5 linked regions of the Homo sapiens genome follow. The protein of the gene in region 1 interacts with the protein of each later gene in a pairwise test. Each region holds a gene or a part of one and is shown on either strand. Other genes may lie near its edges. The genes, in order: DROSHA, ZNF512B, SMAD1, TULP3 and DYRK1A.

What was found.
Region 2: the proteins of DROSHA (region 1) and ZNF512B interact in a two-hybrid assay, tested with the Homo sapiens proteins (one large-scale study listed by BioGRID and IntAct).
Region 3: the proteins of DROSHA (region 1) and SMAD1 interact in binary tests that used the Homo sapiens proteins (3 or more experiments, as listed by UniProt).
Region 4: the proteins of DROSHA (region 1) and TULP3 interact in a two-hybrid assay, tested with the Homo sapiens proteins (one large-scale study listed by BioGRID and IntAct).
Region 5: the proteins of DROSHA (region 1) and DYRK1A interact in a two-hybrid assay, tested with the Homo sapiens proteins (one large-scale study listed by BioGRID and IntAct).

The regions. Positions count from the first base shown.
Region 1 is NC_000005.10:31,510,098-31,516,433, forward strand, and holds part of DROSHA (ribonuclease 3), read right to left. Parts: intron 5,468-6,336; coding exon 5,357-5,467; intron 5,123-5,356; coding exon 4,891-5,122; intron 1,080-4,890; coding exon 938-1,079; intron 1-937. UniProt on the Homo sapiens protein: Ribonuclease III double-stranded (ds) RNA-specific endoribonuclease that is involved in the initial step of microRNA (miRNA) biogenesis.
Region 2 is NC_000020.11:63,959,931-63,966,266, forward strand, and holds part of ZNF512B (zinc finger protein 512B), read right to left. Parts: coding exon 6,211-6,336; intron 6,079-6,210; exon of another isoform or gene 5,626-6,078; coding exon of another isoform or gene 5,582-5,625; intron 5,574-5,581; exon of another isoform or gene 4,975-5,573; coding exon of another isoform or gene 4,934-4,974; intron 4,787-4,933; coding exon 4,560-4,786; intron 4,466-4,559; coding exon of another isoform or gene 4,462-4,465; coding exon 4,390-4,461; intron 4,288-4,389; coding exon 4,141-4,287; intron 3,984-4,140; coding exon 3,859-3,983; intron 3,781-3,858; coding exon 3,688-3,780; intron 3,511-3,687; coding exon 3,412-3,510; intron 3,336-3,411; coding exon 3,165-3,335; intron 2,852-3,164; coding exon 2,657-2,851; intron 2,445-2,656; coding exon 2,343-2,444; intron 2,075-2,342; coding exon 2,012-2,074; intron 1,478-2,011; coding exon 1,379-1,477; intron 210-1,378; coding exon 1-209. UniProt on the Homo sapiens protein: Involved in transcriptional regulation by repressing gene expression. Associates with the nucleosome remodeling and histone deacetylase (NuRD) complex, which promotes transcriptional repression by histone deacetylation and nucleosome remodeling.
Region 3 is NC_000004.12:145,511,512-145,517,847, reverse strand, and holds part of SMAD1 (mothers against decapentaplegic homolog 1), read right to left. Parts: exon of another isoform or gene 4,366-6,336; intron 3,411-4,365; 5' UTR 3,235-3,410; coding exon 2,835-3,234; intron 835-2,834; exon of another isoform or gene 654-834; intron 1-653. UniProt on the Homo sapiens protein: Transcriptional modulator that plays a role in various cellular processes, including embryonic development, cell differentiation, and tissue homeostasis.
Region 4 is NC_000012.12:2,927,823-2,934,158, reverse strand, and holds part of TULP3 (tubby-related protein 3), read right to left. Parts: intron 5,195-6,336; exon of another isoform or gene 5,134-5,194; intron 3,912-5,133; coding exon 3,814-3,911; intron 3,123-3,813; coding exon 2,919-3,122; intron 742-2,918; coding exon 629-741; intron 1-628. UniProt on the Homo sapiens protein: Negative regulator of the Shh signaling transduction pathway: recruited to primary cilia via association with the IFT complex A (IFT-A) and is required for recruitment of G protein-coupled receptor GPR161 to cilia, a promoter of PKA-dependent basal repression machinery in Shh signaling.
Region 5 is NC_000021.9:37,512,157-37,518,492, forward strand, and holds part of DYRK1A (dual specificity tyrosine-phosphorylation-regulated kinase 1A), read left to right. Parts: coding exon 1-375; 3' UTR 376-6,336. UniProt on the Homo sapiens protein: Dual-specificity kinase which possesses both serine/threonine and tyrosine kinase activities. Exhibits a substrate preference for proline at position P+1 and arginine at position P-3.

The sequences.
Region 1 (6,336 bases):
GAGATTCCATCTCCACAAAAAGAAAAATAATTAATTTTTAAAATAAATTAATCCTATAAGAGATTAACATAGTAGTAGCATAATGAAATCCAACATGGAGTTGTATTTACATGTACTGCATGAGATAGATGCTACTGTCTACTGTCATCCCTATTTTACAAATGGGAAAAATCTAAGGAGATTAACCTGTGGCCCAAGGTCACATATCAAGTAGGTGGTAGAGCAGGGATTCAAACCCAAGCCATCCAACTCCCAACTCAGGTGTCTTTGCCCAGTATGGATAACTGCCTCTCAGCGTGTGGGATGTAATGGAGGTGGGCAGATAAGAGCTAGAGAGAACATGTAGCTAAATGCACACTGAATGTCTCATCTGTGCATGGCATTCTGTTAGGGGCTAAGGATACAAAGTGATAAAAAGCAATTTCCATTCTCAAAGATCTCACAACCTACTTGGAACCTCAGAACATACACATGAAAAAATAGACCACCTTATGAAAAAGCTATGCAAACTGTCTACACAAGTGGAGAGAAACCTTCAAACAGAGCTGGGGTACAGTCGCTGTTTCCCTCATCAAACCAGGCGCACCTGGCAAAGGAGAGGGCCAAGGAAGGACACCTGTCCTCATGAGAGGCAGGGGGCATGGGCTCCTGCTCTCGGAAAGATGCTGAACTCTTCTGACTGGACAACTCTCCAAGGGGCACCCTTGTTAGCATGCCTTGCAAATGAGATCGCTGCTGTATTCTGCCAAATGAACTAAGGAAAAATACGATCAAAAAGAAGGAAGTTCTACTGCTATGTATCTTACTGACTGTAATTAAGAAAAATAAAATGAAAAAGAAGAAATCTCAATGTGGGACTCTCAAGGGTATTTCCCCAAAATTTAGGAATGAAGCTATAATCGCAAGGGTCTCAGGCTAGTTAGTGACTCTGACTCACCTAAATCTTCATCGAGCTTCGTCTTTGGAGGTTCCCACGGAGGCCGAGCAGCTTTGGCCTTTTCTTGCCTGCTCCCCAACTCCTCCTCAAATTTGTCATATAAGTCACGAAGCCTACTCGTTCCAACCACTGTAGAATCTCCCTTTTAAAAATAAAGGATCAATATTAGGAACTATATCAATAACGATCATATCAAAGATATGTAAGATCTCACAGGTAATCAAAGCATTTTTAACAGCAAGATGCTATTTTTCAACCCTAAATTTAACAAACATTTAAAAACAAAATGCTCAAGTACTGGCAATCATACTCTGAATCAAACACACACTTATCGCTGACACAGTCTTCAGGTAAATGTGCCTTGCCAACATTCAGAAACATTAGAACAGGCCAGGCGTGCTGGCTCACGCCTGTAATCCTAGCAACTTTGGGAGGCAGAGGCAGGAGGATTGCTCGAGGCCAGGAGTTCAAGACCAGCCTGGGCAACATAGCAAGACCCCACCTCTATGAAAAAGAAAAAAATTAGCCAGGTGGTGTGTGCCTGTGCTACCTGGGAGGCTAAGGCAGGAGAACTGTTTGAGCCCAAGAGTTGGAGGATGCAGTGAGCTATGACTATGACTGTGCCACTATACTCTAGCCTGGGTGACATAGAGAGACCTCATCTAAAAAAAAAAAAACAGAAAAGAAACATTAGAACAGTTCATCTATGCCCTATTAATATGACATTTTTTAAAAAATCATGACCCTCAGAGAATCATGACAACTGACATCAAATACCCTCATAGGGAATGTACACTTCCTACTGAAAATCACTGATAACCTATCTTCTCCTATATCAATCCATCGAGCAATAAGAAATATCCTATATATCCCCTCTCTCTCTCTCTCACACACACGCACACACACACACACACACTCTCATGCCTTAAACACGAGGACATAAACATGCACACACTCTCTCTCACACACACACAAACACATACCACAAACACGGGACTCTGCAACAGATTCCTAGAGAAAATTTTCCACTTTTCCTCACTCAATTTCCAGGTTGAAAATCACTTTACATCTCCACACTCTGACTTAGTAGCCTTAAAATGTAAAAACCAGACCTGTCAAATGTAAAATTAAGGCAAATCATAAAATCTGGTACCCAGAAGAGGGGATAATTCAGGCCCCATCTCATTGTTGGGAGTGGCGATGCCGGTATAGCTTTGACATTCTCACCACCTTCTCTGCACCACACAGACGACAAAACTCAAAGGCAAATGTCAGCCTTTTGAGTTTATCAGTCTTCCTCCTACACTGGAGTTTTAATATACTCATAACGATGTAATAAAAAACAACCAGCCCTGCCTGTTTAAACTCCCTGAACTTCAGTGTCTTCATCTTTATTGTTTTAAGAATAATAACACCTATGGCAGCCATTCTTCCCTTCTTCCTAATAGAAGCAGGATTCTGTAAGATTTGGAGAAGAGAACTCCTGATCTCTGGGAAGGTAGGCTGAGCCACCAGCCCCTCCCAAAGATGTCCATGTCCTAATCCCCAGAAATTAAATATATATGTTAACTTACATGGCAAAAAGGATTTGCAGCTGGGTGGACCCAATCTTAGAACAGGAATCCTTAAAATCAGGGAACCTTTGCCAACAGGGGTCAGAGATACAACAGAAAAAGAGGCAAGAGATATTCAAAACACGAGAAGGACTCGACCACCATTGCTGGCTTCGAAGACAGAGGAAGGGATCCACAAGTCAAGGAATGCACATGGCCTGGAGGAACCAAGAAGTGCCCACACCTGACAGCCAACAAGGACACAAGGTCCTCTGTCCTCCAGACACAAGCAACTGAACTCTGCCAGCAACCTGAATGAGCAAGAAAACAGATTTTCTCCAGAGCCTCCATAAAGGAGCACAGACCTGCTGACATCCTGATGGAGCCAGTGAGGCCCATGCTGGACTTCTGACCTCCCAAGCTGTGAGATGACAAATGTGTGCGGTTTCAAGCCATGCCATTTGTGGAACTCTGTCATGGCAGTAAGGAAAAATGAATCCCTGGGGTAGGCATGTCACATGGCTCTGGTAAAGGGATGGAAGGGGAGTCAAGGGATGAAAGGAGAGCTCGGGCAAGACACTAGAAGAATGCTCACCCAACATGCCCTCTGCATCCTGCGTGTGAGGATGCGGGTGTGTAAGGACCTGAGGCCTGCTAGTCCTGCATCATCCTGCAACTGTGGAAGATGCTCAGGAAGACAGCAGGGCCTGCCATCACTGAGCCACTCAGTGAACACCAGCCATGGCCTCCCTCCAGGTACCTTATTATGAGAAGAACAAACCCAGCTTGTTTAAGTCCCACTTAGTCAGGTGTTATTACTCCTAGCAGCATTTCTAACGGACAGAACCACCTTCTTGCCAGGGGTGTTTTCAGGGTCAACTAAGACAACATGAGAAGCATGGAATAACATTCAGGCACCGTAAAGTGCACAGTATGTGAGCTTTCCCTTCCCTGTACCACATCAACTATGACTTAAAAGCCTGCTCTAATTTATCAAATAAAATATCACACCACTATGAGAGACTTCTCAAATCCTTTGTTTCCAAAAACACAGAAATCTCCTTTCAAGCTCCCCACAGATACGAGTCCAAATAGAAGCTATTTTCACAAAATTCCAAATAACACAACTCTCTCTTATCTCTTATCTAATCCCATACACTAAATCTAACATCTGCAACTTTTCATGCCCGAAATCTGCACGAGTTCATTAATTAAATGAATGAGATGTCCACTCATTCATTTAATCAATGAACATTACAACATGCCTACTCTGTGGCAAATATGCCTAACAGGATGGAGGCATAACGCCTAGGGGGAAGAGGGGAAGAGAGAGCAAAAAGGTGACAGTGACAGAAAATAAAATGGAGATGGAAGAAAGAAAAGAGAAGTGAGCATGTAGAAATAGTGGTGGAGTCTGTCATGGCAATGAGCACGCCGGCTGTAGCACCACAGGCGCCCCGGCCCTGGCAGCATGTGCTCTAGGAGTCCTCCCTCCAGCCCATTAAGGGTGACAATGGCTCTCCCTTTCTGCAAAACTAGCCAATATGCATGGGCAACTTCGTAGGGTTGGTGCTCTTTTGGTCAAGGATACACTTCGAAGAGACAAACTCAAATTCTTCCTTATTTTTCATTTTGGAGAAAACACACACACACACACACACACACACACACACATACACATACACACTACAAACTGCATAAACTAGTTACATGTGAAAGCTTATGAAACCACCAGTACTGAGACTACCAGTATCATTAAAAATGTAGAATAGGCTGGGCACAGTGGCTCACACCTGTAATCCCAGCACTTTGGGAGGCCAAGGCAGGAGGATTGCTTGAGCTCAGGAGTTCGAGACCAGAGTGGGCAACATAGTATGACCTCATCTCTACTAAAAAATAAAAAAAAATTAGCCAGTCATGGTGGCACGTGCCCCGTAGTTCCAGCTACTCAGGAGGCTGAAGTGGGAGAATCACTTGAGCCTGGAAGATCAAGGCTGCAGTGAGCCACGATGGTGCCACTGCACTCCAGCCTGGGTGACAGAGCGAGACCCTGTCTCAAAAATAAATAAATAAAAATGCATTATAAAAAGATATTTTAATTAACCTACTGCACTCTTGGCTTTTAGCTTTTTAAAACGGCTTTTGTCTGTAACAGTGATTCTCAACTGGGGGTGATCTTTTCCCCCCAGGGGACATTTGGCAATATTTGAAGACATTTTCGGTAACCACAACTGGGGAGGGGTACTACTGGCATCTAACAGGTAGAGCCCAGAGATGCCGCTAAACATCCTACAATGCATAGGGCAGTCCCCACAATCAAGAATTTATCCAGCCCCAAAGGCCAATAGTGACAACGCCGAGAAGCCCTAGTCTACAGCTTGTCTGCTACTTCAGACCTACCACCTGATCCATGGGGTCACTGGAGTAGTAGTTTTCTGAATGAGTGCATCGAATCCACACAGGCTTAAGAAGTTCTTCTTCTTCCTCCTCATTCTTGTCAGGCATGGTCTCCTCGGGCTCTTTTTCCTTGATTGAGGTATAGTTCTTGTCTTTGCCAGAACTCTGGTTGTCACTCCAACGGTCTTTTTCTTCCTCCCAACGAGCTCTCTTCTTCTCCCTACTTGGGGAGCGACTTCAAAAGAGGGCAAAGGAGGTTAATTATTAAAAATACTCTTCCACTGTAAAAACTATTCTATTTCACCTATTTGGTGCATTTTTCACCTAAAATATGAATACCATGCCAAATCACCGTGTGTACTTTTGTTAAACCAGTGACTCCCAAATACCAGTCTGGTGGCATCAGAATCACCTGAAGTTTACTTGTTTAAAAATACAAATTCCCAGGCCCCACCCCAGATCTACTTACTGATTCACAATCTCCAGGGGTGGGGCCCAAGAATCTGTATTTTTAATAATCTCCCCAGGTAATTCTGGTGTGCATCCAGCAGGTTCAGGAACAACCGATAAACCGTAACTCCTAAAAGAAAAAGATATTTGCAAAATGTTTGGAAATGTCCACATATGGACAATTTCAGCAATGAGAATACCAGTTTTGAATCCTCCACATCTGTCTTTGCCAGGAAAAAAAGATTTTAAGACTTCACAAAACAGGGTCTCAATATGGCCATAAATTTGGCCTGAGGACTATAATTATAATCCGAGAGTGAACCACTTATGTCATCCCTAACTGTCTCTGGAACCCCAGTCTTGGGCATTACTACTTGGTGAACCAACACTTTGCCTAATGTTGGTCCTCACAGATATTAATATTAACTCAGTCAATAAAGAAAGATGAAAAAACAACTCCATCTCCCTGACTTCCTGGGGCTTGAAATCTGCAAAGACCCATCCTATGGATGTACTTGGAGGGAAAAACCTATAGGGTCAGCTGGGCGTGGTGGCTCACATCTGTAATCCCAGCACTTTGGAAGGCCGAGGCGGGAGGATCACTTAAGCCCAGGGGTTCCAGACCAGCCTGGGTAACATGGTGAAACCCTGTCTCTACAAGAAATACAAAAATTAGCCAGGCATGTTGGTGCACACCTGTAGTCCCAGCTACTCAGGAGGCTGAGGTGGGAGGATCACGTGAGCCTGGAAGGCTGAGGCTGCAGTGAGCTATGATTGCACCACGCACTCCAGCCTGGGCAACAGAGCAAAATGCTGTCTCAAAACAACAATAACAACAAAACCTACAGGGTAGATTTTAATTTAAGCCCAAGAAATTTAGGTAGAACACAGAGACCTTGAGAATCCAGCTAAGTAGAAAAACTGCTTTGTAAGATCACCTGGTAGCCTTCACAGCTCCACTAACAAAGTTACTACTATCCATGTAAGTTTACATCCAGA
Region 2 (6,336 bases), on another chromosome or scaffold:
GAGCCCCGGGCCCCCTTGTCTCTGCATCCTGGAGGCCAGTCGTCCCGGCGCGGGGGCAGCTTGGCCACAGGCTCCTCTGGGGTCCGCTCCTTGGGCTTTCGGCCCCGCTTCTTTCCACCTGCCAGATTTTTCTTCTTTTCCTTCTTGGGCACCAATGAGTCCTGGCTCCTGTGTTTGGGAGGTGGGTCTGCTGATGTTCGGAACCAGTTCTGGGGAGAGAAAAGCGCTGATGAAGACCTGGGACTGGATGCTGAGCACCTGAGCCAGGCATAGCCTGAGAGCTGAAGACCTGTCAGCCTTCAGGACCAGGCAAGCACCTGCAGCAGGGCTGGACACAGCCTTTAGGACCAGGCAGGCACCTGCAGCAGGGGGCTGAACACAGCCTTCGGGACCAGGCAAGCACCTGCAGGGGGCTGGACACAGCCTTCGGGACCAGGCAAGCACCTGCAGCAGGGCTGGACACAGCCTTCGGGACCAGGCAAGCACCTGCAGCAGGGCTGGACACAGCCTTCTGGACCAGGCAAGCACCTGCAGCAGGGGGCTGGACACAGCCTTCAGGACCAGGCAGGCACCTGCCGCAGGGCTGGACACAGCCTTCAGGACCAGGCAGGCACCTGCCGCAGGGCTGGACACAGCCTTCAGGACCAGGCAGGCACCTGCCGCAGGGCTGGACACAGCCTTCAGGACCAGGCAGGCACCTGCCGCAGGGCTGGACACAGCCTTCGGGACCAGGCAGGCACCTGCAGCAGGGGGCTGGACACAGCCTTCGGGACCAGGCAAGCACCTGCAGGGGGCTGGACACAGCCTTCGGGACCAGGCAAGCACCTGCAGCAGGGCTGGACACAGCCTTCAGGACCAGGCAAGCACCTGCAGCAGGGCTGGACACAGCCTTCAGGACCAGGCAAGCACCTGCAGGGAGCTGGACACAGCCTTCAGGACCAGGCAAGCACCTGCAGCAGGGGGCTGGACACAGCCTTCAGGACCAGGCAAGCACCTGCAGCAGGGGGCTGGACACAGCCTTCGGGACCAGGCAAGCACCTGCAGGGGGCTGGACACAGCCTTCGGGACCAGGCAAGCACCTGCAGCAGGGCTGGACACAGCCTTCGGGACCAGGCAAGCACCTGCAGCAGGGCTGCTGGGGGCTGGAAAGGCGGACACCCCGAGGGCAGCTCCAGCTCAGGGTGCAAGCCTCCCAGTTCTCCCAGGGAAGCCAGACCCCACTTTGAGGAGAAACTACCAGATTTCTCCACATTGGCCACTCTCCCAGGCACACCCCATGCAGGCCACTGACCTCTCTACCCCCAAGGGGTGCCCAACCCCAGCCCTGTCCCCTCCTGGGCTAGCCCCCAGCCACAGGCCCTGGTGATGGCCCTCGCACCTCTGCGTGGGTCTTCAGGATGTGGTATTTGACGCCACTCTCAGAACTGAACTCCTTCGGACACAGCAGACAGCGGTACTTCCCTGCCAGGTGGGCCCCCTGCAATGCATAGGCAGGCCAGTGCCCCAGCCCTTGGAGGACCCAGATCTGTCCTAAGCCCCTACTCATGGCTAAAGGGTCAGAGTCAGCGGTGGCCCAAGGAAAGCTGTGGCTGTCTGTGCCAGACAATGCAGGGGGCCACTGAGTTACCAGGGCGGCAGGGGTGGTAGGGGAGAGGAAGGGTAGGGAGAGGCAGGTGCCCAGGGGAAGAGTTGCAGACCTTTGCCGAGCATCCCTTATTGTAAGCCAGTGTGCCATCTGCGTGGGTCGGGGTGCCCACCCATGCCTACATGGACGCAGAGCTCCAAGGACAGGACTAGGACTCGTTGTCTTGTGGCTGGGGTTGGGGCGAGGGAGGTGTCCTAGGCTGGCCATCAGCCACCGGCCAGTCTCTGGGTTCGTGGAAGAGGAGGCCACGTAGAAAAAGTAGGGGACAAGGCAGGGTCCCTCACTACTGTGTGGGAAGCCCGCGTGGGGTGAGCTGGGAGCTCTGAGTGCAGCGCACCTGGCCGTGGGGCAGGCCCCAGAACTGACCTTACTGCAGCTGGCGAGATGAGCCTTGAGTCCGGACACGCTGGAGTAGATGGCTTCACAGCACTGCAGGGAAGGGAGCCGTGGGCGAAGGCCTCTGGTGGGCACCCCACACCAAGATATACCCCTGCCCTACCCCAGGGGATCTCTGAGGCTCTTTGGGGCAAGTGAGGGGGTGTGAGTCCTGGGGACTGGGCAGGCTGGGCATGTGAGGCCTGGGGTGGGCTTGGGCACCTCCTGAAAGCTCTCAGCCTCTGTTCCTGCTCAGAGGGCCACACCCAGGCTCTGGCCCTGTATGGCTCCCCACGCCCCCCACCCGGCTGCCTCCGCTCACGTCGTTGGGACAGTTGACGTGGCCTTTCTCCTTCACTTCATTCTTCCATGCCTCTAGCAGCTGGGGGTTCAGCGTGGGGAGCCCTGGTCGAGTGTAGTTGAGCTGTGAATTCGACAGCACCAGGGTGAGCCTGAGGCCAGAAGACACCCCAGCTGCTCTAAGAACACTCGCCTCGGCAGCAGGCGACACTCGCCGCAGATGGCGGGGGCAGCGGGTGGCCCAGGTCACAGCAGTGGCTGTCCCAAGTCTCAGGCCAAGGCATGCCCCACGCAGAGGCCACGGCGCTGTCCACAGCCCTGGGGGGGGCAGCTCACCCGTGCGGTCTCGGGCACAAGGTCATCCTTCATGCGCCGCTTGGTCCAGTCGCGGGCCAGCTCGTCCTCCGCTATCTCCTGCAGGTGGAACACCGCCACCTGGGCCGACGTGCGGCGGACACGCCCGCTTGGGGTCCGCTCCACACCCAGCGGGTCCTCAGCCTCAGGGGACTTGTCTGTGGGCTCCTCAGGGGGCTGGAGGGCAGGAAGGCATGGAGGCTAGAGTGAGCCGCGGGAGCAAGAGTCAGGTCAGCGCGCGGCGAGGCCACCCTAAGGCCGGTGGACCCACAGGCCTCCCAGTGTGCTGGGGACATGGCTGACGCAGGCAACCCGAGGGAACACGGAGGTTTCACCCTCCCGCCCACCAGGACACACGTCTCTTACAGAGAGGGGTGGGAAACACACGCGTTGGGCGGTACATGGACAAATACAGTTGGCACCCAAGGCACACGGAACACACACGGCACACAGGAACAAGCACTGTGCCACAGAACAGAGAGCCACTCACGGGGGCCGTGTGCTCCGAGCGCACGTGGTAGTCGTGGCCAGCCTTGGATCGGTACGTCTTGCCACAGTGGGTGCAGGGGAAGGAGGGGCTGTCCACCTCGCAGGGCGGCTTCCCGCAGCGCCGCTGGTGGTACTGGTAGCCCATGAGGCTGGAGAAGGCAGCCCCGCAACCCTGGGGGTCAGGCCAGAGGGTGGGTGAGTGGCCAGCAGGGCCCCCCCACCCCACACTGCCGCGGCCCCCCACTGACCTCCTGGGGGCAGCGCAGCCGTCCCATCTGCTTCAGCACCTTGCGCAGCCTCTCGCGCTCCTCCTGCTCGCCCCCTTCGGAGGCCTCGGCGTCAGAGGGCTGGGGACAGGGTGAGCATCGGTGACCCGGCACCATCGCCACGGAGCCCTGCCCTGGCCCCGCCCCGCCCAGGTGTTGGGCCACCGTTGTCCGAGGTTAGAAACCGGGGGCACTGCGGTGAAGGTGGGGTGCGAGGTCAGAGGTCACGCTGGACGGGAGCTGGGGGCCCGACGGTACCTTGGCACTGTGCTCGGCCATAGTGTGGTAGTTGAGGCCGGCTTTGGACTTGAACTGCTTCCGGCAGTGCTGGCACTTGAGTGCATCCTGAAGCTGCAGATGGCCCACATGTGAGAAGCCTGCCTGGGGCCAGGGCGCCTCCCTCCCAGCGCCTTCCGGGAGCTGCCTTACCTTCTGACACACCTCCATGTGCTTCTTAAGCCCCACGAGAGTCTTCCGGGTGACCACGTTGCAGGTGGGGCAGACGGCTTCCCCGCGCTCATGGATGGCCCTCTGCCACTGCTCTTCAGGGCCACCTGTGGGTAAGGCAGGGGCCTCGAAGGCTTGTGGGGGCTGCTGGGTGGCCCAGACGCCAGGCACAGAATCCAGTCTCCACACTCAGCCCCCATCCCTGTGCTGTGGGATCTACCCGCCGTCTAGAGCTGCCCTGAGCCCCTGCCAGGCAGCCCCTACCTGGAGCTGGGTGGGCCACAGGGGCCGGTGCCTCCTTGCTGACAGTGATGGGGGCAGCTGGCACCTTCTTCCGGGCGTCCTCAGGGCCTGGCCCCTCCTGCTTCTTGGAGCGGTGAACTCGGGCCTTGTCCTCAGCTTTGACCAGGCCTGTGTGCACACATGGGGTGGAGAGAAACAGGGATGGGCTCAGGGGCTGTCACTCGGTGGACAGCCCCAGCCCTGGAGGTGCACACCGGGCTGGGGTCTTACCTTTGAGCCCAAAGGTCCCTGAGATGGATGGCTGCTCCCCTGTAAACTTTTTGGGTGTTTTCTGTTTCCTTCCTGACTCGGGGAGAGAAAACGGGGGCCAAGATTCTGGTGAAATAACCGTCAGGAGGCCGAGCCTGCCCCGGCCGCCACCCCTGGAGCTCTCATCTTACTGTGCTTTGTGCGCTCCGGGTCCTCCTCAGGCGGGGACGCAGGGCCTGCAGCCTTCAGTGCCTCCATGCCCCCTGACGGCCTGCTGCCTGGCGACAAGGAGCCACTGCTGGTGTCTGCACTCAGCTGGAAGGCCGAGCTCTGGCCCATGGAGGAGGGGCCGTACTCCCCATTCTCTGGCCTGGCCTGCTTGGGTGGAATTGGGCAGGTGTCCAGGCTGTCCGCAGCCCTGCAGGGAGCAGGTGAGGTGAGGGCCAGGAGGGCCTAACTGTGGGCCCCATTACCCCCAGGCCGTGGCCGAGGAGCACCCTGACCTGGAACGAGCCCCCATACCTTTTCTCACCACTGTTCCCCGACCTGGGACAAGCCCCCATACCTTTTCTTACCACTGTTCCCTGACCTGGGACGAGCCCCCATACCTTTTCTCACCACTGTTCCCTGACCTGGGACGAGCCCCCATACCTTTTCTCACCACTGTTCCCCGACCTGGGACGAGCCCCCATACCTTTTCTCACCACTGTTCCCTGACCTGGGACGAGCCCCCATACCTTTTCTCACCACTGTTCCTCCCCGACCTGGGACGAGCCCCCATACCTTTTCTCACCACTGTTCCCCGACCTGGGACGAGCCCCCATACCTTTTCTCACCACTGTTCCCTGACCTGGAACGAGCCCCCATACCTTTTCTCACCACTGTTCCCCGACCTGGGACGAGCCCCCATACCTTTTCTCACCACTGTTCCCCGACCTGGGACGAGCCCCCATACCTTTTCTCACCACTGTTCCCCGACCTGGGACGAGCCCCCATACCTTTTCTCACCACTGTTCCCCGACCTGGGACGAGCCCCCATACCTTTTCTCACCACTGTTCCCCGACCTGGGACGAGCCCCCATACCTTTTCTCACCACTGTTCCCTGACCTGGGACGAGCCCCCATACCTTTTCTCACCACTGTTCCCCGACCTGGGACGAGCCCCCATACCTTTTCTTACCACTGTTCCCCGACCTGGGACGAGCCCCCATACCTTTTCTTACCACTGTTCCTCCCCGACCTGGGACGAGCCCCCATACCTTTTCTCACCACTGTTCCTCCCCAACCTGGGACGAGCCCCCATACCTTTTCTCACCACTGTTCCTCCCCGACCTGGGACGAGCCCCCATACCTTTTCTCACCACTGTTCCCTGACCTGGGACGAGCCCCCATACCTTTTCTTACCACTGTTCCTCCCCGACCTGGGACGAGCCCCCATACCTTTTCTTACCACTGTTCCTCCCCGACCTGGGACGAGCCCCCATACCTTTTCTTACCACTGTTCCTCCCCGACCTGGGACGAGCCCCCATACCTTTTCTTACCACTGTTCCCCGACCTGGGACGAGCCCCCATACCTTTTCTCACCACTGTTCCCTGACCTGGGACGAGCCCCCATACCTTTTCTTACCACTGTTCCCTGACCTGGGACGAGCCCCCATACCTTTTCTCACCACTGTTCCTCCCCGACCTGGGACGAGCCCCCATACCTTTTCTCACCACTGTTCCCCGACCTGGGACGAGCCCCCATACCTTTTCTTACCACTGTTCCTCCCTGACCTGGGACGAGCCCCCATACCTTTTCTTACCACTGTTCCTCCCCGACCTGGGACGAGCCCCCATACCTTTTCTTACCACTGTTCCTCCCTGTGGCACGAGGTGCTTTGTTCTCCGACCTGGTCAGCAGCACCATTTTGCAGGGCGGTGTGTGTCTGCTGATAGCAATGGGCCTGCTGACTGTCACCGGCTTG
Region 3 (6,336 bases), on another chromosome or scaffold:
AAGCCAGTTTTCCACCTCTTCCCCATTATTTTATTAGCACATATGTTATTAAGAGTAACAAATTCATCTCAGTATTGGTTTTAACTTTTCACCTTGTATCAGAGGTGTAATAGCCATAAAATGACCAAAGAAGGGAAGAAGATGGTCAAAAGGTATAGATAAACTGAAAATTCAGCACTAAAAAAATGGCCAAATGACGATATTAAATTAAAAATCAGCATCACCATTTAACAGCAAAAATTTATCAAATTATGCTTGTTGCTAAAAATAGAGATGTTAATTATACACATAGTCCCTGCCCTCATGGAGCTTTATTTACTATCTTGCAGAGAAGACCAACAGAACAATCATTATAAGTGTGAAGAACATTCTAAAGAAATTCAGGTTGCTATGGGAAATGAGACCTAACCTCCCCAAGCAGAGTAGGGAGATATGTGTGAAGTAGGAGGTATCAAGAAAGGTTTCCCAATGAAACTGACCTCCATCACACAATTACTTAGTTTATTAAGTAATGACCATGTGCTAGACACAAACGATAAATAAGAGTGGGCTAGACAAAGAGGGAGGAGAAACAGGTACAGATAGAGGAAACGTGCATGGAATGTTTCCAGAGAACTCAAGCACACAAAGCATGCAAGAGTACAAAGGAAGTTGGAAAGGGAGGAAAGGACCAGAATGTGCAGACCTCTCTAGAGGACTTCTCAAGAGTAGGGAAAAGTAGGACAACAAGAGGATCATGTCTGCATCTTAAAAGATCCCTTTCTGTAGACAATGGACTGAAGGGGGTGACCAGTCAGGAGGCAGTTGCTGCATTGCAAGATGAAATGCTGGAAGGTTAGCGCAGGGTGAGGGGGAGTATGGATGGAGAAGACATATTCATAGTGTCTTTTAAATAGTGAATTTTGCCTTTCATGTCAAATGCCTCTATTTTCTAGTTCTAACACAAGGCACTTAACTTGTAGGGGCCTCAGTTTCATCGCATATGGAGTAGAATTAAAATCTTACCTATGTATTAATACATTTTAAGGTTACTACGAGGATCAAAAAAATCATGTGCCTAAATAATATTGCTGGTACATATTACTTATCTACTACATTTTACTCTCCAAAACTCTTAGCTCCATTTCCATTTCTGGCTAGAAGAGGGACATGTACCTCTGTGCTGAGTTTAGAAAAAAGAACACTGCATCACAGCTGATATAACAAGCAGTAAAGAACGTCTATATCCAAACTGGTAAGGAGAATTCAGCACAGTTGTTAGAAAAAAGGCAATGCTCTCTTAACCAAGAGCAACTGTAACAAAATGTAACTTTTAAAAGGATACAATAAAAACCAGTTATCTAGAAATAAATCTAGTAAGTGCAGGAGCTGTATGGAGAAACTTAAAAGTGCACTAAATAATATTATGCTCAAGAGCACAGTAGGCCAATCTTCCCCAAATGAAATCAACGAAATTCCAATAAATTCCCAAAGTGTTTTTCATAGGACTTAACAAGGTAATCCTAAAGTATATAATCTAGAAATCACAAAAACGTAATGTTGGATGAACATAAGTTGTACAAAGAAACTCCAATATTATGTAACATTTTTAAATATATAAAATATTACATATTGTCATGGACTCATACATATGTAATAACAGTATAAAAACATGCATGAGAATGATAAGCGTCAGATTCAGAACAGTGGTTACCAAAGGGAGCAGAATCAGAGGAGCAAAAACAGGGGTTCCAGTTTACACGTAATCTTTTATTTCTTAAAATGAGTAGGGGATACAGAGATGTTTGTTATACTACTGGTCTTTAAAATCTTTTTTTAAAATATGTCTTAAATATTCCACAAAAATACAGAATGCCTTTTATTTGAAAACCATGTTATTACATGATCTAGTTTAGTAATTCCTAAACACCAATCCAATAGCTACATCAGTAACACCTGAAGTACTTGTTAGAAACAAAGATTACCAGGCTATCCCAGGATCAGGATTTCTGGGAGGAGAGCCATGTGATTCTAATATACAGCCTTAGTAACCCAGGAACTATTAACAGCCAATCCATCAACAAAATTGGTCCCAATCGACAATGAGACATTTAAGTGCTTGAATATCTAATCACTTTCCAATGATCCAACTCTCTAGAATGTAGATTCTAACTTGAGGGCAAAACCGTATAAATTTTAAAATATATCCTTTACCATACCCTCCCAAAAGACTATACATGTAAAAACTGGGTATATTTTATAAAGTAATAGCATCAAATGATTCCATAGAAGGATATAATTCCTTCATATTCACCATAGGAAATATGCCACAGCAAAATTCCGCCAGAGATGATAAAAAGTGCTGTTCTTAAGTTCAGAATGGTTTAAGTCACTGGCAACTACCCTCATGATGTACTTCCCTTAAGCATATAGACAGCAATAATGCATTTCTTTCCTAATTTTCTTCCCTTAGAATACAATTCATAGCTAATTTTATCTAGAGAAATGCAGAGAACCATGTGAGACATAAAAAATAAATTTAGAAAGAAAACAATTTATTAAAAATTAGAGGTATTAGTACTGCAATGACAATTGTCATAGCCTGCTCCCAAGACATAATGTTAACTAGAGATGACTAAGCTGTTAAAATGTATGAAACACTCAGGGGCTTTCTCTCTTGCATTCACACAGACACACACACACACACACACACACACACACACACACACACACAGTTTCCCCAAATATTTTTAAATTACAACTAAAAACAAGCAAAGGGATTATTTTCATGTTCTAAACAACACAAATCTGGTACTGGGCACACAAAGCACATCAACATAAAATAACTCACTTACCAGGGCTTTCTACTCTCTTATAGTGGTAGGGATTGATGCAGACCTCCTTCTGCTTGGAACCAAAAGGAAACTCACAGCATTCCAGTGGTTTTAGTTCATGGTGGCTCTGAAGATCGGGCCAGCGCCACACACGGCAGTAAATGACATGAGGCAGTCCCTTCCGGTGGGAGACTTGCAGCCTGCCATCCAGAGAGCGGGGAATGGTGACACAGTTACTCGGTTGCCCTGGGCAGCTCAAGGCCTTTTCCAGTTCCTCCATGGCACCTTTCTTTTTCTTCAGTTTTTTCACCAAAGCATCAACAGCTTTCTCTGCCCATTTTTCTTCTTCATCGCCCTGTTTCCACCCAAGAAGTCTCTTCACAGCTGGACTTGTAAAGGAAAATAAACTTGTCACATTCATAATGACAGCACTAGTTATACTCCTTGGATATGGTGAAATAAAGCTGTCTCCAAATGCAAAAGGACAGCAGAAGAGATTTGTTTATTTACAGAGAAGTCTCTTTAACTTCTTAGTTTGAAGTCCAGAAGAGTAGAAATTACCATTCCTAGTGTTTAAAAAAGTAACCCAGTCAGCACCTACAAAACAAAAAAAGAATGGTTAGAATCATCTTTACCATACAACCACATTTATTAAGTAATCACCATGTGCTAGGTACTATTTTAAGTGCTTTTATGTAATACAGTATGCTGTGGACTGAATTGTGACCCCTAAAATTCATATGCGGAAGCCCTAACTCTCAGTATGACTATATTTGGAGATGGAGCCTCTAAGAAAGTAATTAAAGTTAAGTAAGGTCATCAGGGTGGGGCCCTAACCTGATAGGACTGGTGGTCTTAAGATTGCTATCTCCCTCCTCCAGCCTCTATGCACACACACTGAGGGTACTGCAAGAAGGTGATCATCTGCAAGCCAGGAAGAGAGCCCTCACCAGAGCCTGTATTGTCCAGAACCTTGATCTTGGACTTTCCAGACTCCAGAACAAAGAGAAAATCTATTTCTGTTATTTAAGCCACCCAGTCTATGATATTTTATTATGGCAACCAAAGCAGACTAATATATAGCATTTAATGCTTTTCACAATCCTTTGAGTTAGGTAATACAATTGCTGCCACTTTACAGATGAGTAAACTGAGAAGCAGTTTAAAAAGTAAGCCACTGTTAGCAAAAGCTCTGGGATAAAAGCAACAAAGTTAAAAAGCCCAAGTTCTCAAAAGATATTGTAATATTTTAGATTTAGATTCATTTATAACCTCTAAAAATATATTTCAAAACACCTCAATCAACAAAAACTGAAAGCAACAGGGAGAAAAAAATAGTCTAATATCTCTGTTTTTTTGGTTTGTTCTACAAATATTTCTTAGGCTAAAAGAAAATTCCTCTTATATAAATGTAGTAATATTTTAGGGTATTTCTTCAGTGAACAAGCCTGTGTCTATGGGCTACAGGACAAATAGGATAGGAAATACATCTCCTGCTTTAAAAATGTTGCTATTTATTGACATAAAAGGAATAAAGCACATGGACACATACTGTACCAAATTCTTTAGCCAAGTTGCCTCATTTAAACTGTTTACTCTTTAGCACATGAAAACATAAAATGTGAAAAAGGTTAAGGAGGTTAACTTTGTACAAACCCTGGCTAAACTGGAGTAGCACGTATCAGACCAACCTCCTTCCAAACAAACAAGCCAGAAAACAAACAAACAAAAGCCCAGCTTTTTAAAGGCATCAAAGAGGAACCAAGGCACTCAGGACTTGAGGGGGCCAAGATCCTGGAGAGAGGGGAAATGCAATGAAGTGAGCTGAATATTCGTCACCACTCTTTCCAGGGATTTGCCAATAGCTATGCTATGAGCAGCAAAAGGTCTAGGAGCCGAGCAGAAAGAGGTAACTAAGAGGCTAAAAACTAAGCAGAGCTTCTAGTAGCCTCATAGCGCTGAGGAACCCCAAAATAACAACACAGCAACAAATGGAGTTGAGGGCCTGCTGAGGAGAAACCCTGGTAAATAGTCTAGGCTTTCAATGGAAGCTCCTGGAGGAATATGCCCCAGTCTAAGGGCAAAAATGAAACGGATCAGTCTTTACAACCAATCTAGAATCATCTTAATCCTAGCCTTGGTCTAGGTGATGGGTATTGCTCTCTAACAGCTTGCCAGAAGAAAAACAAATTCTCTGTAGAGGAAGACAACATCAACCTTAGCCACTACAATTTTAAATTCACAGTGTATGCAATGAACCAAAAGTTATCAAGCATACCAAGAAACAGGACCAAATGATCAAAACAAAACAGAATAGAAACAGACCTAACGGGTGACCCAGGTAATGGAGTTACCAGAAACAGACTTTAAAGTATTAATGATTACTATTTACTATGTCAAGGAAAGAGAAGACAAGGTTGAAGATTTTAACAGAGAACTGGAATCCATAAAGAAGAATGAAATAAAAATTCTAGAACTGAAAAATATAACTAATGAGACTTTAAATAGGATGAACTTAACAACAGGTTAAATACAGTAGAATAAAAGATTAGTGAGCAGGAAGACTGGTAAAAAATGCTCATACTAATGCAAAGAGAGGGAAAAAATGAAAAATAAAGAACTAAGGAGACATAATGGCTCTAGTGAAAGGTCTAGCACTGCATAAGTAGAGTCTTAAAGGAAAAGAAGAAAGACTGTAACAGAGCAATATTTTTAGATACTAGCCAAGGATTTTTCCAAAACTGTCAACAGACATCTAACCATACATTCACGAAGCCCTACACCTTCCAAGGATACATACAGAGAAATCCACAAATTTCAATGTGTCATATAACAGTAAAATTCTTGAAAACCTAAGATGAAACTCTTTAAAAAGGCACATTACCTTCAAGTAAGTACAATCAGGTTGACAGCTGACATTTCAGCATAAACAATGGAAACCAGAAGACAATGAAATGACATCATTAGTGCCAAACGTAAATAGCTGGTAACTTAAAATTCTACATTTAGAGGAAAAACACATTCAAAAAATGATTGTGAAATAAAGATGCTTTCCAACAATCAAAATCTGAGAGAACTGGTTTACAGCAGATTGTCACTAAAAGAAATACTAACAGGAATTCTTCAGGCAGAAGGAAAAAGACTCTAGAAATAAGCAAAGAACTGCAGGAAATGAGGAAGAGCTCCTGAAGGGGAAATAAGGGTAAGTTTAAATGAATACTGACTTCACAAAACAACAATAGGAATGTCTTGTGATGTTTAAAATATATGTACAATTAAAATGCATGGCAACAGCAAAAAGAGATATATGAAGTTAGCATTCTAAGGTCCTTGTGTTATCCAGGCCATGGTAAAGTATAATTTACTATTAGTACAGTAAGTTATGAATTCATGTCATAATAAAGCAACAACTGAGAGAATAAGTTAAAAATTATAACAAGCTAATAGATGGGTTAAAAATATGGAATTAAAAAAATATATATGATTAGCCCAGTAATCCCAGCACTCTGGGAAGCCAAGGTAG
Region 4 (6,336 bases), on another chromosome or scaffold:
CTCCCACCTTAGCCTCCTGGGTAGCTGGGGCTACAGGTGAGAACTGCCACGCCTGGCTAATTTTAAAGTTTTTTGAAGAGATAATGTCTCAGTGTGTTGCCCAGGCTGGTCTCAAACTCCTGGCCTCAAGTGATCCTCCACCTCAGCCTCCCCAAATGCTGGGATTATAGGCCTGAGCCACCACACCAGCCTTATTTTTTTATTTTTTTGAGACAGACTCTCATTCTGTTACCCAGGCTGGGGTGCAGTGGCACTATCTTGGCTCACGGCAACCTCTGCCTCCTGGATTCAAGCAATTCTCGTGCTTCAGCCTCCCGGGTAGCTGGAATTACAGGCTGTTCTACCACACCTGGCTGATTTTTGTATTTTTAGTAGAGAGGGAGTTCTGCCATGTTGGCCAGGCTGGACTCCAACTCCTGACTTCAAGTGATCCGCCCGCCTTGGCCTCTCAAAGTGCTGGGATTACAGGTGTGAGCCACTGCGCCCAGCTTTTTTTTTTTTCCTTTTTCTTTTTTTTTAAGATTACAACATCAATACATGCTAGTTGTAACCAAGATAAGGACTGTTCTGCAACTATAGGAATAAGACTATCAGAAAGAATAGGACAGTGATCTAAGGTTGCTTTCACCTAAGCTTGCCGACATAACTTTCTCCTTCACGAGATAAATCAACTGGATCAATGGAGATAAGGTAGTTGGCTGTTTTGCTCTTTTTCCGCTTTCTAGCTGCAAGAAGAAATATCTGGGAAAAGAAAAAGTGTCAGTCAAAAATGAAGTCCAGAGAACCTGCCCCACCTCTGGTCATGGTTGTCCTACATATTCATTCAGCCAGTGCTTAGCAAGTCCTCAGCATATGTCAAGCTGTTAATCTTTGGGCCTTTATCCCTTTCTCTAACTCTCTTATCAGAATTCACTATCAGGCAGGGTGTGGTGGCTCACGCCTGTAATCCCAGCACTTTGGGAGGCCGAGGTGGGCAGATCACAAGGTCAGGAGATCGAGACCATCCTGGCTAACACCGTAAACCCTGTCTCTACTAAAAATACAAAAAATTAGCTGGGCGTGGTTGCAGACGCCTGCAGTCCCAGCTACTCAGGAGGCTGAGGCAGGAGAATGGCATGAACCCAGGAGGCGGAGCTTGCAGTGAGCCGAGATCATGCCATTGCACTCCAGCCTGGGTGACAGAATGAGACTCTGTCTCAAAAAAAAAATAAAAAATAAAAATAAAATAATTCACTATCAGGGTTTTCTTCCTATACAGTTTTTCTAAATTCACTAGCTTGATTCTCCATATAATTAGTTACAACTTCATCCCTAAAACTTCCAGTTAAAAAAAAAATCTCCAAAGCTGGGCCAGGTGGCATGAGCCTATAATCCCAGCTGCTTGGGAGGCTGAGGTAGAGGGATCACTGGAGTCCAGGAGTTCAAGGCCAGCCTGGGCAACCTTGCAAAATCCAATAAATAAATAACAATCAATGTTCATCCAATGCCATGATTAAGAGTCTTTCCAACCTTAGGAGAGACAGGATCCTGAAAACCTTCCCATTCTTTACTGTGATGGCTTTTTTTTTTTTTTTTTTTTGAGATAGGGTCTCACTCTGTCACCCAGGCTAGAGTGCAGTGGTGCAATCACAGCTCACTGCAACCTCTGCCTCCCAGGTTCAAGTGATTTTCCTGCCTCAGCCTCCCGAGTAGCTGGAACTACAGGTGCATGCCACCACTCCTGGCTAATTTTTTAATTTTTTGCTAGAGGCAGGGTCTCCCCATGTTAGCCAAGCTGGTCTCGAGCTCATGTCCTCAAGGGATCCACCTGCCTCAGCCTCCCGAAGTGCTGGGATCATACGTGTGAGCCACCGCACCTGGCCTGTGATAGCTTTCTTCATGCCATGGGGACACAGACAGAGGAATGTCAACCACATCTGGTGAAGCACATCAGGAAAGACTCTGATTAGGCAAAGGGCAAGAAGGGACAAAAGGGAAGCCTCTCCAGGGAGGAAATACTCTTTTTTCTATACTGCTGTTGTGTTAAACCACTGTGACCTCAATGGCATGAATACCATCCTATATAGGCATCCTTCCTAAACTCTCCTAGACTAGGACCATAATAGGGAAGCAGGAGAGTGGCAGTGGCTAAGCAGGAAGACTTTAGAATTATGCAAAATAGGTTTGAATTTGGCTCTGCCACCACTTAGTGCAACGTGGGGTAGGTAAGTCACTCCCTAAGCCCCAGTTACCTCATCTTTAAAGCAGAGGTAAGAAATCCTACCTAACAAGGTGGCTGCAAGGATTACAGGTGATAATATATATAGATATATATGCATATGCTTGGTCTGTCGTAAACACTCAATAAATGGTGGTTAGAAGAATTAACACCTAGTATCATTATCTTATTTCTAGGCTCTTAAAATCATCTGTTAAGACCTGGTATTAATACAAAATTAATAAAATAAAGTTCATCGCTGGCTCAAACTTATAAAATAAATTAGAACTTCTAGGGTGAGAAACAAGACATTTAACTTGTAGGTCCTTCTGTATTTCTAATTCCTCCTATTCCCTAAAACTCACTCTCCTTCCACAATGTCATGTTCTTCCGTAATAAAAAGAAAAACCAAAAGAACAAACAGTAACATTCAAAAACTCAATCATGGGAGACAGGTGAAAATAATTACATTAACAACTACCCGTCCATTTTCCCACTTCGTGGATAAAGCTCTTATTTGTGGGAGGGTAGAGCTTGCTGCCTATTAGACCATGAGCTCTTTGCAGAAAATGAGAACACAGCATCTGGGGACTGAAAGATACAATCTACTTCCAGCTGGCTTGGTCTAATACCAGAGTTAGTTCCCTAAGGCCCATCAACAATCTATTCCCACAACATTCTTCTCTCTCTCAAGAGTTTTCTTAGAAATCAATTCTCATACCTTCTGATTTTCTTCTTTTTCCAAGTACATATAGTAGGTGGGGAAGAGACCCCGATCCATTCCCCTTTTATCCCGGATTATCCGACATCTTACTGTGACACCTTGAGGGGCAGGACTATACACAAAGTCCTCCAGGTCGTCTATGTCTCCCAGGAGGTTATCAGCTGGTTGGGCGGCAGTAGCAGAACCGGAAGTGCCTGTATCCTGAAAGGACAGCCATACATGAGCAACAACAGGCCGAGACTCAAAATCTGATTCTCTTTGAAAAACACTTAGTGGACAAAGCAACTTAGTAATTTACCCGTGTCTTCAGTCTTCTGACAGAATGAGGAAAACTGAAAAGTTAAATTAAGTATATGAATATTGAGAGTAATGAAGAGTAAGTATCAAAATGGGACAAAGCCTCACAATAGCTGACCTGAGACAGAAAAAATTAGATCATAAACTAAATTTGAGCTTACACTTCTGAAGGAACCCTCACTCAGTAATGGTATTTAAATACTGAAGATATGTTTGAGGGCTGGGCACGGTGGCTCATGCCTGTAATCCCAGCACTTTGGGAGGCTGAGGCGGGCGGATCACGAGGTCAGGAGATCGAGACCATCCTGGCAAACATGGTGAAACCCTGTCTCTACTAAAAATACAAAAAATTAGCCGGGTGTCATGGCGGGCGCCTGTAGTCCCAGCTACTCGGGAGATTGAGGCAGGAGAATGGCGTGAACCCGGGAGGCGGAGTTTGCAGTGAGCTGAGATCATGCCACTGCACTCCAGCCTGGGTGACAGAGCGAGACTCCACCTCAAAAAATACATAATAATAATAAATAAATAAATACTGAAGATATGTTTGAGAAAGAGTCAAATTAGCTCTAATGGAAGAAGTTTCAGAACTACATACGGTTGAATTCTGGCTTGATGCAGAATTGGGTCTTTCTAAACATGCTGACTGGGATATTCCATCAGTCTCCTCATCGAAGTTCACACTTTCAGAGATATCTAGCAGAAAAGGAAGAACTGTTAGCACTGCCAACACTGTTTAAAAAAGGTCTTTGAAACAAAGATAGTTTTAATTTTCTTGCTTAAAACATTCTTAACTATTCTGACCGTAAACACAACTATTTTGTCCAAATACATAAAACAGGCAAATTCATAGAGACAGAAAGTAGAATAGAGGTTACTAGGGGCTGGGGGCAGGGGAGAATGAGGAATTATCTTGAATGGGTGTGAAGTCTCTGGGATGATGAAAAAGTTCTGGAGATGGATGGTAGTGATGGTTGCACAACATTGTTAATACACTTAATGTCACTGAATCTCACACTTAAAATTGATTAAAGTTGTAAATTTTAGGCAGGGCAGGCTGGGCGCGGTGGCTCATGCCTGTAATCCCAGCACTTTGGGAGGCTGAGGTGGGCAGATCACGAAGTCAGGAGATTGAGACCATCCTGGCTAACATGGTGAAACCCCATCTCTACTAAAATACAAAAAATTAGCCGGGTGTGGTGGCACGCACCTGTAGTCCCAGCTACTCAGGAGGCTGAGGCAGGAGAATCGCTTGAACCTGGGAGGCGGAGCTTGCAGCGAGCCGAGACTGTGCCACTGTACTATAGCCTGGGAGACAGAGACTCTGTCTCAAAAAAACAAAACAAAAAAAATTTAGGCAGGGCACAGTGGCTCGTGCTTGAACTCCTAGCACTTTGGGAGGCTGAGGCAGAAGGACTGCTTGAGGCCACCAGTTTGAGACCTGTCTCCATAAAAAGTTTTTTTAAAAAAATTAGCTGGTCACGATGGTACCTGTGTGTCTGTAGTCCTAGCTAGCTGAGGTGGTTGGATCACTTAAGCCCAGGATTTTGAGGCTAAAGTGAGCTATGCTTGTGCCACTGCACCCCAGCCTGGGTGACAGAATTACACCCGAACTCTTTTTTTTTTTGAGACGGAGTCTCGCTCTGTCGCCCAGGCTGGAGCGCAGTGGCGCGATCTCGACTCACTGCAAGCTCCGCCTCCCGGGTTCACGCCACTCTCCTGCCTCAGCCTCCCAAGTAGCTGGGACTACAGGCGCGCGCCACCATGCCCGGCTAATTTTTGTATTTTTAGTAGAGACGGGGTTTCACCGTGTCAGCCAGGATGGTCTCTATCTCCTGACCTCGTGATCCGCCCGTCTCGGCCCACCCGAACTCTTAAAAAAAAAAAAAGTGTACTTTTTGTTATTTGGAAGGGAAGGGAAGGCTTCAGTAAAAACAGGAAAACTTGCTAGACAAATTCTAAAAAGAGCTGCAGCACTGGTAAATTATTATGATTTTTTGAGATGGAGTCTCACTCTGTTGCCCAGGCTGGAGTGCAGTGGCACCATCTCAGCTCACTGCAACCTCCGTCTCCTGGGTTCAAGCAATTCTCTTGTCTCAGCCTCCCCGGTAGCTGGGATTACAGGTGTGCGCCACGAAGCCCAGCTAATTTTTTTGTATTTTTAGTAGAGACAGGGTTTCACCATGTTGGTCAGGCTGGTCTCAAACTCCTGACCTCAGGTGATCTGCCCACCTTGGCCTCACAAAGTGCTGGGATTACAGGTGTGAGCCAACATGCCAGGCCAACACTGGTAACTTCTATGTTACGATGCATATTTTACCACAGTAAAAAAAAAATTCAATGATGCATTATTCTTTACAGCAGTTTTATTCCCCTCAGCATTTTCTTTTTATTTTATTTATTTATTTTTTTTGAGATGGAGTTTCGCTCTCGTTGCCCAGGGTGGAGTGCAATGGTGCAATCTGGGCTCACCGCAACCTCCGCCTCCTAGGTTCAAGCGATTCTCCTGCCTCAGCTTCTCGAGTAGCTGGGATTACAGGCATGTGCCACCACATCCGGTTAATTTTTTATTTTTAGTAGAGACGGGGTTTCTCCATGTTGGTCAGGCTGGCCTCGAACTCCCAACCTCAGGTGATCTGTCCGCCTAAGCCTCCCAAAGTGCTGGGATTATAGGCGTGAGCCACCATGGCTGGCCCCCTGGCATTTTCTTAATCTCTGTCTAGTTAACTAAATCTAACTAGGAATGTTTGAAATACTAGTACTTTGGATTTATGGAGCATCTTTTATAGGAAATTTAAAACTGCTGGATGAAAAACTATTTTTTCATTTTATTCTTACATTTGAGTTAGAGGAGGAGATACTGATAGTCTTTTTGTTTTCTATTGTTTCTTGTTCATGGAGTATATAATCTGGAGAGGAATGCAGATGTAAAATAAAGTGTGATCAATGTGTGTTATGAAAGAGTGACGAGCCTCAGATTTATATGTGGGAGTACAGGCTCAGGAAGAATCATTTCTCCAAGAGAAAGAGGCAGAGCAAGACCTAAACTAAATTCCCTTGTGTCTAGTATCTGCGGGGTGAAGTTACCCCTCACTGAAATGGTCCTTGAATCATAGATTTA
Region 5 (6,336 bases), on another chromosome or scaffold:
TCCTCTACCCAAGATTCTATGGAGGTTGGCCACAGTCACCACTCCATGACATCCCTGTCTTCCTCAACGACTTCTTCCTCGACATCTTCCTCCTCTACTGGTAACCAAGGCAATCAGGCCTACCAGAATCGCCCAGTGGCTGCTAATACCTTGGACTTTGGACAGAATGGAGCTATGGACGTTAATTTGACCGTCTACTCCAATCCCCGCCAAGAGACTGGCATAGCTGGACATCCAACATACCAATTTTCTGCTAATACAGGTCCTGCACATTACATGACTGAAGGACATCTGACAATGAGGCAAGGGGCTGATAGAGAAGAGTCCCCCATGACAGGAGTTTGTGTGCAACAGAGTCCTGTAGCTAGCTCGTGACTACATTGAAACTTGAGTTTGTTTCTTGTGTGTTTTTATAGAAGTGGTGTTTTTTTTCCAAAAACAAAGTGCAAAGCTGCTTGAATCAGGAGGAGATTAACACACTGAACCGCTACAAGAGGGCAAAGCTGATTTTTTTTTTAACTTGAAAAGATTGCAAAGGGACATTGAAGTGTTTAAAAGAGCCATGTCCAAACCCATCTTCATGGATAGCTCAGAGGTATCCTCTTTTTGCTCCCCCATTTTAACTTGCCACATCCCAGTCACAGTGGGGTTTTTTTGTCTTTCTATTCAGCAAAAGTTAATATTCAGATGTTGGTCTTGGTCATTTGCCAACTAATTTTAAAGTAAAAGGCACTGCACATAATTTGCATAAAGGGCCCCATGAGGGTGTTTTTTTTTTTTCTTTTTGTCCCCCCCATCCCCCTTTTTTTTTGTTTTGTTCTGTTTTGTTTTGGGTGGGAGGGTGGGAAATTTGGGTTTTTAAGTCCTCTAAACACACTTGGGCACGGAAATGCAGTACTGTAAGGAAGAGGGACCTCCAGCTTCCACAAACACCATCTTCAGCTGTATGAAAGGGACGGTTGTGGTGAAGTTTGTCAGGCACAGTAAGCATGCTGAGTGGCGGGGATCAGAACTCTCCTATCTGAACCTACTGAGGAGCAAAGCAGCAATTACATGGGATCCTGTGGCTCTCCCGTTGCAGAGGCCACAGGAAGATAGGATGGAACGTGACTGGTCTCCTAACCAAGGTGCACTGAGAAGCAATCAACGGGTCGGTCGTGGCCAGTCCTGGGGAGGTCTGAGTGGTGGTCTTTGGGATAACCTTTGGCCTTATGGATTTGGACTCGAAATTAGAAGAGCCTACCATTTCAGATGCAATCACTTTTGGACATGCTTTTGCAGACAGTCCTTAATGCTGAAAACACAGAGAATGGGTAATTCAAGAGGCCTTTCTTTTAAAATAGACTTTTGTGACCCACTAATTGTAAGGTATTGCAAGGTCACTTTGCGTGTGTCATAAAGTTGACTTCCTTATTGGTTGAAGGTCACAGAAGTAGTGGTTTGCTTTGATGGAAATAGCTACAGCTGTGTCCCTTCCTGCTTTTTACTTTTTCTTTTGCTTTTTCTCGGCACGTGGTATCTCCACCATTTCTTCTGCACAAAGATGTCTTCTGTTCATCCTGAACATTTTTAAAAAATGCAGAATTTTATGTGACTGCTTTTTTGCCTCACAATTATGCTGTGAATTTTACAAAAATTTATTTTCTTTTTTGATAATTTATTGTACCAAAGCTGTTTTTATAGCACATAGATGTCTGTAACCAATAATGTAGCAGTTCTGCACTTTGACACAAGGTGTAACTAGACCATTTTTAAATGTCAGTTGAAAATTATGGCTGTACTATTGCTTAAACAAAACTGGAACTGTTGTTGAATCCATAGCCAATACATTTACAGCAATCTGTGTACTGAACATAGTAGATTGACATCTAATTCAAGATTACAACATCTGTTACATTCTAAGTGTGTTCAGGCTTCTGAAGGTAAAGGGACACTGGATCCAGAAGCTATGGAACCAGCAGTTGATTCTTGTATTCCTGATTAACCTACTTGTAAACTTGAAAGCAAGACCTTGATTGCACCAACAGGTCCAGAGTATGAGTGCAAGCAAAGCAGAACTCTCATGCGTGACCTGAGCAGACAGGCTGGTATTTAACAGGTGCCTCGTGTTGAGATTACGCTGCCTTAATGTAACACAGTCTGGCAGTTGCTAAATTTGTGTTCCCATTTTAAATTGACCAATTTTGGGGTGTGACACTTTTGAGCGGTTGAATTGGGAGAATGAAGATAAGTAATTTACCTGTCCAGGATCAAAAGAAGCCTAGAAAAGAAGCAGTAATCTACCTCTGCCGATAACCTGTTTAAGATGACTCAGCAGAACACCGCGTTTCATTCTATTGGTCAATTCCATGTGGCTGACTAGGTCAATTTTTTTTCTGAACAAAAGCAGGTTTTTATATGTAAACAGTGAGAAAAGAAAGGCTAAACACTATGTAAATGTGAATGGAAACTTGGAAATACTCGTTTTTATAAACTACAAAAACTTTTTGTTGTTTATCAGGAAATCCATATTTATTTTGTAATTAACTGTCAAGCCTGTGGATGATTTTTTTGAACTTGGTAGTTCATAAAGGTTTACAGTGAATAAAAGGATATCATCTTGAGTATAGCAATATCAAAAGGAATTCAGTAGTTACTGCTGTTTAGGAATATAAGGTTAAGATATCATATGGGTCAGGTCATTTTTTTTTTCTGTGCTGGTTGCCACATCTTAGCAAGCACCAAAAAACTAAAGCAGTTTTTAAACCGATATTTACGTAAAGAAAATCATAAAATCCAATGCTTCTGCATACTGTGTTATGTTACAGTCCAGTTTTGTGTGCTTTACTACACAGTTTGGTTACAGGACTTCTGTGCATTGTAAACATAAACAGCATGGAAAAGGTTAAATACCTGTGTTCAGATTGTAAGATCTAGTCCGGACTTGCTGTGTATATTGTAACGTTAAATGAAAAAAGAACCCCCCTTTGTATTATAGTCATGCGGTCTTATGTATGATAAACAGTTGAATAATTTGTCCTCAGACTCTTTACTATGCTTTTTTAAAAATTAATTTAAGAAAAATGTAAACATAGTAAAAATCTTCCTATGCAATTAAACTGGTCCAGGTCTGGTAGGTATAGTATCAAAGTTGAGTTAAATGTGTAAAAAGGAAACTATTTGAGATACATTGACATAGGCATCAGCAATCTCTGAAAGTAAAAATTGGAGGTTTAACAGATCATTTTGATTTTTCACATTGATTTTTTTATTTGAATGTTTACATAATTTTGTGATTCAAAATGCTCATATTTTAGTTGGTAGCATTTCGACTGGATGTGAGGGTCTGATGGTTTTCTCTGATATGCTTTGACGTGCTTGGATGAAGGAAGGAATACGAATACTCATTCTTCCTTCCCTAACTCCTCGTACGGGGCCATATCAGAATTCTAGAATTCTTGCCACTGTGATTCAATTGCTAACCTAAAGTCTTCTCTTTTTACAAATTCACCTGCTTCAGTATATATTAAGGTGGCTTTCGAGAGGCAAGATGCTTATTTAAAAGTTAAGCGTGAATCTGTAAAATTAAGGTTGGTTGCGTAAAGTTGAAGTTAACCACATGTAAGAAAGGAAAACTTCCATTAGTTTTCTTCTTAGGGTGTGAGAATTTTACCTAGGCACATGGATATTGGGCTGAAAAAAAAAAACCGACATTTTTATTTAAAACTACATGTAAAAAATCATGAAAGATTCAGTAATTATGTTAGGCTCACAAGTGACCATTGAGTTTGCCCCTGTACTGCTTCCCAGCTTTTGTGGTGTTGAACTTTTCTGTTCTTCCAATAGGGAGATACATAATCAAAATACACACGAAGACGAGATAGCAGGCACTCAGTTCTAGGCCAGTTTCTCAGTTTCCTTTGGGCCTGCCTTTATTTTGATAGTCGCAGAATGCAGGTTCAGATGCGATCCGGTGCATTCTGGGTGGTATCCCCATAGACAGAATACAAGTTCAAGACTCATTTTTATGTCCATTTTTATAGTGGTAGACTGTATGTAATAGACCAGATGGTTCATTCCAAATACATGACTTGGTCTTACTGCTATATATGAAGGAAGTTTGAAAATGTAATGGGGACAAAAGCCGTGCGTGACTTCGGTATACCCAGACTTCATTCAGATTTCTTAAAAATCTGCTAGGGATGTCTGTTGACCAGACGTTGGAAAACCTTTGGTGTCAGGGAGAGTAGAGGAGAAGTTCTGATTTTCATAACCCTGGTTTCTTATCTAGGCCTGTTTCCTTGCGTGAAAACATACATCACCAAGTAATTTGTAGTACAAAGAACAAGAGAAGAAACCCTAAGAAGATAGCTTATTTGTTATCCTCCCTTTTAATGACTAACCTTAATCCAAATGAATCCACTGAGAACCAGCCTGTGGATGCCTACTGGGCTTTCACCCTGGACCAGGAATTTTTGACGTATGCCTGTGTTGAAGGCACTGGATGCTTGTTTTGTGGAAGACATGTTCATTGAGGTAAGTGGCTCATCGCTTGGTGTGTTTGGCTCTCTTTGGCATTATGCATAGCCAAGGTCCCAGATTTTGGCTGCTCTCAGTGGGTGTTCTTGCATCAGAACTTTAAAAAAAATAACACTACCTTAACACTGAGACTGTCAGGTATTTGTCAGTATTTATTTCTAATTTCCTACTTTAAATCTTAGGAGACAAAGTGTTTCTCCAACTGGACGCTGATTTGAAACACAACTAGAATGCTACAGGTCTCTCTTCCAGTATGCAGCTGCTGTACCTGAAAATTTTTCCCCATAATTTCCCATCTTTAGGGTATGTCCCTGTTATCAGGTGTGGAATTAATGTGGGTAAATTTCCATTTCAGTTGAATTTCCTGTCATCCCCAGCAAAACCTGTGAATCCTTCTTCAAAGCATAGAGGAGGCAGAGACAAGTCTTAAACCGGCTTCCCTTCGCTTTTACCAGGTAGCCTGGTTCAGTCCCAGCTGGGTCCTGAAGGAGCACAGTACTAGAGCCTGAGTCATGTTGACTATTAATAAAGTGCATTAAGTTTGGGTCAGGCAAAGTGGTGGCAAAAGTTCATGATGCAGGACAGAGGAAACAAGTGGACAAGACAAGTGGAGCCCAGCTCTGTTCGCATGGGAGGCCGGGCGATGCTGGCATGGGTGTGGTTGGCCGAGTTCTCATAGCTAGAGAAAGGCCGTGTAGGTATAAGTGCTTAATGTTTCATCTGTCTGAAAGACCAGCTATTTGATAATCTTCCCGATTAAATTTCTAAAATTGCTACTTTGGGAATTTTTTTCTTTATTCTTGTAAAGTTTTGCTTCCATTATATACTCATTCATTAGTCAGTGTACTTGCCCCTGAATTCCATATCTGAAACTGCAGTCACGGGAGATTCAGAGCCAAGGGCAAAATAAAGTGGCAGGCACTGGGTGTGTGTGGTAGTTCTGCACTAGGGTGGCCAGGAAGCAGCCAAGCAGGTGTGCCGGGCAGGGAGTTGTTAATGAACACCCAGGCAAGAGGACGGGCCTGAGCCTGAGTGTGGCCAGCAGAAAGTGTTGAGTTGCTTAAAAGAGACCCTGGGAGGATGAATTTGGAATCATCATCCACTCACTGTTGGACAGAAAGACTGCAGAGAAGGGCACTGCTGGGGTGGGGTTTGTTAACTCCCTCTGAAATGAAAGAAAATACCTCTAGTGGCATGAAACGGCTAAGTTTTTTTTAATGTTACTTCTTTAATTTTAGAGACGGTGTCTGGCTTTGTCACGCAAGCTGGAGTTTGGTGGTGTGATTGCAGCTCACTGCAGCCTTAAACAACTGGGCTAGGTGATCCTCCCATCTCAGCCTCCCAAGTAGCTGGGACTACCTGTGCACACCACCATGCCTGGCTGTTTTTAATACGGGGTTTTGCTGAGTTGCTCAGGCGCTCCTCAAACTGCTGGCCTCAAGTGATCCTCCAGCCTGGGCCTCTCAAACATAAATAGGCTGGGCGTGGTGGCTCACGTCTGTAAAGATTTAAAGCGGAAAAGCGGAATGCAGTGAAATAGCATGAGAAAGAGCGTTTTTATGTACATCACAGACAAGCCTTGTTCTGCTGAAGAGGTGATGCCACGAGGTGGGGAGGAGCTCACTTCAGGCACCACTCCCACTTCCATTGCCCGCAAATCCAGGAAAGAAATGACTAATGAACTCTAGTGATCGCAAACTGCTCAATCGGTACTCATCAATTTAAAATGACTGTCCAGCCTTGCTGCACACTAAACTCATCTGTAGAACTTTATAAAACCACGGATGACCATCACACTAGCAGGATTTTAGATTCAGA